Homo sapiens: one gene and its partner. The protein of the gene in region 2 interacts with the protein of the main gene of each other region in a pairwise test. Each region holds a gene or a part of one and is shown on either strand. Other genes may lie near its edges.

Region 1 (3,910 bases), on a different chromosome or scaffold from region 2:
CCAAACGATGGAAATAGGGTTTGAGCCTAGTCCTATCTGGTGCCAGGACTGCTTCCTCTGTCCAGTCCCTACTGCCCCAGTCTCTGGCCCATCCTGGCCATGGGCATCACAGCCAGCCTAGAAAGGATGGGGACTAGGAGAGGAGAGGAAAAGGAGACAGGGGAGGGACACAGGCTTTTCTAGTCTTAAAGACACTCAAGGCCAGGCGCAGTGGCTCACACCTATAATCCCAGCACTTTGGGAGGCTGAGACGGGAGGATCACTTGAGGTCAGGAGTTCGAGGCCAGCCTGGCCAACACGATGAAACCCCATCTCTACTAAAAATATAAAAAATTAGCTGGACATGTTGGCACGCACTTGTAGTCCCAGCTACTCGGGAGGCTGAGGCAGGAGAATTGCTTGGACCCAGGAGGTAGAGGTTATAGTGAGCCAAGATCATGCCATTGCACTCCAGCCTGGGTGACAGAGTGAGACTCCATCTCAATTAAAAAAAAAATGAATAAATAAAAATAAAGACACTCAAGGAAGCAGCACTCACAGCTGCCTTGGTCCCCAGACTCTTCCCCTTACTCTCAGGGAGGGTATAACACCCATAGGGCACTCTACCTGCCAGGCACTGCCCTGGGGAATTGGATACAAAATTTCATCCCTACCTCTCTGTACCCTGTTTCTCTGCAATCCTCATTTCACCAACGGGAAAGCAGAGGCTCACCAGGATGAGGCACTTTTCCCAGTATCAGTCAGCTGAAGGGATCTATAGAGCCCTCTCTCCAGTCACAGCAGCTCGTCACCCCTGGAGGTCTACCTGCCATCCTTCTTGTGTCACCCCTGGACGTCTACCTGCCATCCTTCTTGCTGCAGAGCTCCCTCCTGCCTACCTCTGTCCTCAGCACAGAGACGAACCTGGCCAAGGCTCCCATTTCCCAGATGTCAACACCAGCCCAGTAAACCACAAATGCATCCTGTGTGCAGGCCTCCCCAGTCACTCTCAATCTATTAATCCAATCCATCCCAGCACCCCAGCCCAACATGCCACCCAAACCGCCTCATTCCAGGCCCCCTCCCCCACCCTTTCTTTCTTTGCCCAGAGGACACCTGGCTGCCCGAGTTTGTGTTCCCACAACTGCCCCCAGCATGGGCTTGCCTGGGCCAAGAGGGCCCTCCCGAGGACTGGCCAGAACAAGGAAAGGGACAGGAAAGGCCACATCTGGATCACAGCCCTGAAGCCCCCTCCCCCAAACCAGCCATCACTCTCTCAGAGCCCAACAGTAACCTCAGCCAGGGACGACTTCCTCACCCTCCTGACCCCATGCATGCCTTTGCCTGGCCAAGACAGCCCCACAGGAGCCCCTCTGAGGAAGGGGTCCTCTCCTCCTCTGACCCCCAGCCCTTCTGCAGCAGGCAGCCCTCTCCCATCCCCCTTTACCCAGGAGCCTCAGCCCAGGTCTGGCCTTAAGACTTTTAACCTTCACCACGTGGCCCCCAGGCCTCTCTGCTGGCCCCCCTGGCATCCCCATCCTGAAACCCACCTCCCTGAACCTGGAGCCAAGAGAGAAAGGGGGAAGAGCGGGCCATGGCTCCCTCCTCCAGGATGGAGAGGTCTTGGTAGCAGGGGAGGGCTGTGGAGGAAGGGATGGCAGTGGGTGGAAGCTGAAACTGGGTGTAGAAGGAATAAAAGGGATGGACTCTGAGAATTCTCCCACAGCCCAGCTCTTCCAGACTTAATATTTTGGACTACTATTCTTTGCTCCCCAGCCCCACCACTGCCTCCTCCTCAAGATCTTGGGCTCAGCAACTGAGGGGGGGCGGTGAAGAATTTTCACCCCATTGTAGGATGCAAGTCGGGAGGAAAGGCTCTAAAGAGAAGCAAACTTCTCTGTGGCCTCCTTCCACTTACAGCTCTGGGACTCCATTGGGGGGTGGGGGGGTGGGGCAGGGGATGTACTGACCCGGGACCCTGGGCCTGGGCCCTGTTGGTGGGGAAAGTCTTCCGGCTGAGGGTTGCTCAAGTCAGTCTGTCCTTCTGTAGGTCAGAGACAGAAAGGCCCCTCCTTCAAGACTGACACCCCCCGACCCCGGGCTCTCAGCAAAAGGATAAGGTGGCAGGGGCCGGTGGGGGGCGGGGGGTTTGAGGAAGAGTAACGTCGCAGCTAAAGCAGCCAGACCTACCCAGAGCATGCAGGACAGACAGATCCACGTCATCTTTGCTGGGTCCCGTCACTGAGGCACGCCCAGGGCCTGTGAAGAGCCCCTGAAGCTAGAGTCCCCGCGGCGCTGGCAGAAGGGCTCTCTGAGTCCGCGGCTGCTCCGGCTCCGCCAGCATCTGCTGGGCCTCTCGCCCTGCTGCCTCCAGCTCACCCTCCCTCCTCCTCCTCCTCCCCCCACTCCACCCCTCGTCCCAGCCTCCTCTCTCCTCCCTCCTCCCAGGCTCCACCGGTGGCCTTGAGGGTCAGGAACCCTGCTTTGCAGGGGGTGTAAAGGGGACAGGGAAAAGGGAAAGCTACCAGAGGCAGGGCCCCCCCAGGCCGTGCCCCCCACCCCCGGACACACAACCCCTGTGTGCCACCAAGGCTCCTCAGTCTTCTGATCTGGTGCTGGTAGGCCTGGAGTCCTCCCTCCTCACTGCAGACCCCCGCCCCTGGCAAACCAGCCTGGGGGCCTTCACTCCTGGAACCCTCCAGACCACTGATGGATGAACAGACAGCCCCAGGCCCACACAATCAGCACACTCAGGGTGCCTTGGCCCCTCCCCTTCTCTGAGTACCCGTGCCTGCCTTCCTGGCCTCCTCGGAACACACATGCATTTGCACACACAGACTGGGACAGACTCTGGTGCCCACGCGCCAAGCTCAGAGCCCAGGACAGGCCTTAACACAGAAGAAATAGGGCCCGAGACTGGGGAAGAATGGCCCTGCCCCCAGGCTGTGGGTTTCATTCCAATTTTTTTCCTATTTCTTTTTTTTTCCCCCTTCTTTCTTTCTTTCCTGCAAACATCTGTCCCAGCCTTTCCTGCCCTTCTGAAAGGGAGCCCCGCTCCAGGCTCCCGCGAGAGTGTGTTTTTCTTGACTGTACCCGGGGCCAACATTTGGTTTGCATTTCCCCACTTCCTCCCCCTCCTCCCCTCTCCCCCTCCCTGGGCCCAGTTCTCCCCTCCCACCATTCCACAGGCCTATTTCTTCCCCTCAGTGTCCCCTGCCCACCAGCCCTCCCCTCCCCTCGCCCCCACCTCTGCCCAGGGACAATTGTTGGGGGTCTAGAGGGTGGAAAGGAGGCTGGGTCAAAACCCAAAAGTATTCCCACGGAGCACTAAGGGGGAATCCAGCAAAGTCTGCCCCAGGCCTTCATTGTCTGGAACCACCACGTTCCCCTCCAAAAAAAACCCTTCCTCTTTGAGCTCTGGCCTTGGCTGGACCAACTGAGGGTGGGTGGGGGCCAGTGAATCACCCGCTCTGTTCTTTGGAGCTGTCCAGGAGAAGGAGGGAGGGCTCAGCCCCACACCCTCCTGTGGACACACACACACACAAGGACACAGTCCAACTCACGTCAACACATAAGAGCCCTCCCAGAGTAGGCACTTGGAGACCTCGTTCCTAGACTGAGTCACTTAGCAAGAAAAGTTCTCTTGCCTGGCCTCCTATGCACACTGTGCTATACATGCCCTGGGGCCACATGCACGAAGGGTTACAGATCCCCTGCCTCCCCCCCCCACTCACCCAAGGCCATGCCATGCCGCTGTCTGTCAGCACCACATACCGTGCAACTACCAGCCTCCTCTTTCACAGGGATCTGCCCAGCCACTTGTGCCAACTCCCAGCCCAGGGACCACCCAAGACATCTACCTGGGAAACCCCAGAATGAAGGGGAAACACTGACTCTTCATCTGAAAAAAAGACTGCAGTATTCAGATACA
Region 2 (3,910 bases):
CTCAGCCTCCCGAGTAGCTGGGACTATAGGTGCCTGCCACCACGCCCAGCTAATTTTTATATTTTTAGTAGAGACGGGGTTTCACCATGTTGGCCAGGCTGGTCTCGAGCTCCTGACCTTATGATCCACCCGGCTTAGCCTCCCAAAGTGCTGGGATTACAGGCGTGAGCCACTGCGCCCGGCCACATTTAAATAGTTCTTAAAGTTGACTGGGGCATTCCAACTGCAATGGGATACAGAGCTAGAGATGAGTAGAGGAGAGAGATCAAATAAGATGAAGACAAAAGGTCAAGGAAACAATGGACTTAGCCCTCACCTGTGGGAGGGGGCCTGTGTATTCAGGCAGATAAAGATGATGACACCCTTTACTCCAACTCCCTGGGACTCCTTTCCCACACTCCTCAGAAGTTGCTCCCCCACCATGCAAACACAGCCCCTACAAGCTGCCCTGTTCCCAGTAGGAACCTATTTAATTAAATGGTTTGAATCACCTGGATTTCATCAAAAGCATATCTCTTTAATGTTTTTTTGTGTGTTGTTGACAAAACTCTGAGATACTCTGGTGACCAAAGTAAAAACACTCTTAATCCACTTAACAATAAACAGATTCCAGTGAAAATTTTTTTTTCTCTCTTCTTTGGGTTTCCTTGAATAATACCTTGAAGAAAAATATATAAATATTTGAACTGTTCCCCTCCTGTATTTCTTCTACCTAGGGTAATGCAAAGAAAACAAAGTTTGGGCAAACCAGATCAGAAAGATTTGAATGAAAACCTAGCTGCCACTCAAGGGCTGGCCCATATGATCGCCGAGTGCAAGAAGCTTTTCCAGGTAAGGAATTGAGAAGTTTGGCTCCTTTATTAAGGATAATGTGAATAGGTACAAAATCTTAGGCTTGACCCTTGTTCATGTCTTACCTGAAGACCTTTTCCACAGCTGGAGACGGTATAAATAGCCTGAGAATGTCTTATTTACATATATTATAATGTATCAGCTAGAGTTAATCATGTTTAATGAAATTGTCCCTTTACTTGGAAAAGCAGCCGGGCGCAGTGGCTCACGCCTGTAATTCTAACACTTTGGGAGGCTGAGGTGGGTGGATCACTTGAGCTCCGGAGTTCAAGACCAACCCGGGCAACATGGTGAGACCTCATCTCTACAAAAAAAAATTTAAAAATTAGCCGGGTGTGGTGGTGCACACCTGTAGTCTCAACTACTTGGGAGGCTGAGGTGGGAGGATCACCTGAGCCCAGGGATGTGGAGGTTGCAATGAACCAATATTTTGCCACTGCACTCCACTAGGTAACAGAATGAAACTCTCTCTCAAAAAAAAAAAAAAGAAAGAAAGAAAGAAAAAGCAACAAATTATCTGGAATTAAACTGCTGTATCCACTTCCGTATCTGAGAAACCTGCTTTGACCAATGTAATTCACTCCCCCTACTCTAACTTTCCAAAGACCTTACATGGAAATAAGATTTCAGATACATTTATGGAGGTGATCTGTTCATATCCTCGTGATAACACGTGCGGTCAGCATGATAGCCCACCTCCGGCGGGAAGATGCCTGCACTGCTTTAAGGACCAGGCCATTGTTCCTACCCAGTCTTTTCCACTGATGGGCATTGAGATTGAGTACAGGTGGACTCACCTCCTTTCTGTCTGTCATGTTCCGCACAGGTTCCCGAGGAAATGAGCCGATGTCGTAATTCCTATACCGAACAAGAGCTGAAGCCCCTCACTCTGGAAGCACTCGGGCACCTGGGTAATGATGACTCAGCTGACTACCAACACTTCCTCCAGGACTGTGTGGATGGCCTGTTTAAAGAAGTCAAAGAGAAGTTTAAAGGCTGGGTCAGCTACTCCACTTCGGAGCAGGCTGAGCTGTCCTATAAGAAGGTAAGGCTTCACCCTGTTGTCGGCTAGTTGAGTCCAGGAGTCGAAGCTTGGGTCCATCAGAGATAACACGCTTTTGCCAACTAATCTGTCTGGGGATCTGTAGCCCACAACCTCCCTTGTAGAGCTGGGCACCGGGGTGAGTAAGATCCCCGTGGTGAGAGTGGAAACCGGGCAAAGCAAGAGTAATTTTCTTCCTGTGTAACACTTGGGAGAGGATTTCAACTATTTCTAATGAACTCCTTTGGCTCTACAGAATCACACTAGACTTCCCTAGAATGTTTTGCTAATGGCATTGAGATGCGGAACATCCTATGACACGCTTCGATTTTTCCATAATTTGGTCAGAATCCCTTTGCACTCTTCTCTGTTCTTAGTTACTGTTCTCTTGGCCCTTTAATGAGCGGGGATCCCTTAGGGGGAAATTAACTCCAGTTAGGACTGGTAAACCTCTTGAGGGCAGAGGCATCTTGTAAGGCTCAGCAGGATAGGTCCATCGGAGGTATATGTTGATGCCGCCTCTACCATCTTGAAAATAAACAAACAGTGGGAGTAGGCTGGGTGGCCTTGCCGGCTTTGGAAATGAGTGCAAATGTCTGATGTTTTTGTTTTTATTTATTTATATTTTTTGAGATGGAGTCTTGCTCTGTCACCCAGGCTGGAGTGCAGTGGCATGATCTCGGCTCACTGCAACCTCTGCCTCCCGGTTTCAAGCTATTCTCTTGCCTCAGCCTCCCGAGTAGCTGGCGCTACAGGTGCCCACCACCACGCCATGCTAATTTTTGTATTTTTAGTAGAGACGGGGTTTCACCATATTGGCCAGGCTGGTCTCGAACTCCTGACCTTGTGACTGCCCACCTTGGCCTCCCAAAGTGCTGGGATTATAGGCGTGAGCCACCATGCCCTGCCAGTGACTGATATTTCTTTATTGCATGCACTCTGATATAGGTCCCAGAAAAAAAAAAACAAATGTCATCATTTTTTTCTTTTTTCTTTTGAGATGGAGTTTCATTCTCATCACCCAGGCTGGAGTGCAGTGGTGTGATCTCAGCTCACTGCAAAGTGCCTCCTAGGTTCAAGTGATTCTCCTTCCTCAGCCTCCTGAGTAGCTGGACTTACAGGTGCCTGCCACCACGCCTGGCTAATTTCCATATTTTTAGTAGAGACAGGGTTTCACCATGTTGGCCAGGCTGGTCTTGAACTCCTGACCTCAGATGATCCACCCGCCTCGGCTTCCCAAAGTGCTGGGATTACAGGAATGAGCCACTGCACCCGGCTCAAATGTCATCATTTTGACTCGAGTTGACAACAGCTTTTTTTCACTTTCTGGCTTGCTCTTAAATATGCTTGGGGACAGCAGCCTATTTAAGTCATAGATTTATTAGCCCCCAATATTTCTTTATATACTGATTATATAGTATTATTTATATCATTTAATCAATTAACGTTGATTATATGTAACTAAAATTGTTAGTCTAACTAACAATTCGACTTCAAAAACTAGGTGTGTATGGATTGCCTTGGCACTGAAAAATACATCCTCTTTCCAGGTGAGCGAAGGACCCCCTCTGAGGCTTTGGAGGTCAGTCATTGAAGTCCCTGCTGTGCCAGAGGAAATCTTAAAGCGCCTACTTAAAGAACAGCACCTCTGGGATGTAGACCTGTTGGATTCAAAAGTGATCGAAATTCTGGACAGCCAAACTGAAATTTACCAGTATGTCCAAAACAGTATGGCACCTCATCCTGCTCGAGACTACGTTGTTTTAAGGTGAGCGCTTCCCAGTTGTTTTTTTGTGACAAGGATGACTCCATATATGAACCAAGCCTATATGTCACTGATCTTACAAGATGGTATAATTATTTAAAGTAGAGGCCGGGCATATGGTGGCTCACACCTGTAATCCCAGCACTCTGGGAGGCCAAGGTGGGAGGATCACTTGAGGCCAGCAGTTCAAGACCAGCCTGGGTAATATAGCAAGACCCTATCTCTACAAAAAAATTTTAAAAATCAGCTAG

What was found.
Region 1: the proteins of DLC1 (region 2) and TNS1 interact in a two-hybrid assay, tested with the Homo sapiens proteins (one study listed by IntAct).

What each region holds. Positions count from the first base shown.
Region 1 is NC_000002.12:218,000,671-218,004,580, forward strand, and holds the start of TNS1 (tensin-1), read right to left. Parts: upstream 2,326-3,910; 5' UTR 2,203-2,325; coding exon 2,170-2,202; intron 1-2,169.
Region 2 is NC_000008.11:13,088,239-13,092,148, reverse strand, and holds part of DLC1 (rho GTPase-activating protein 7), read left to right. Parts: intron 1-716; coding exon 717-831; intron 832-1,678; coding exon 1,679-1,897; intron 1,898-3,444; coding exon 3,445-3,662; intron 3,663-3,910. UniProt on the Homo sapiens protein: Functions as a GTPase-activating protein for the small GTPases RHOA, RHOB, RHOC and CDC42, terminating their downstream signaling.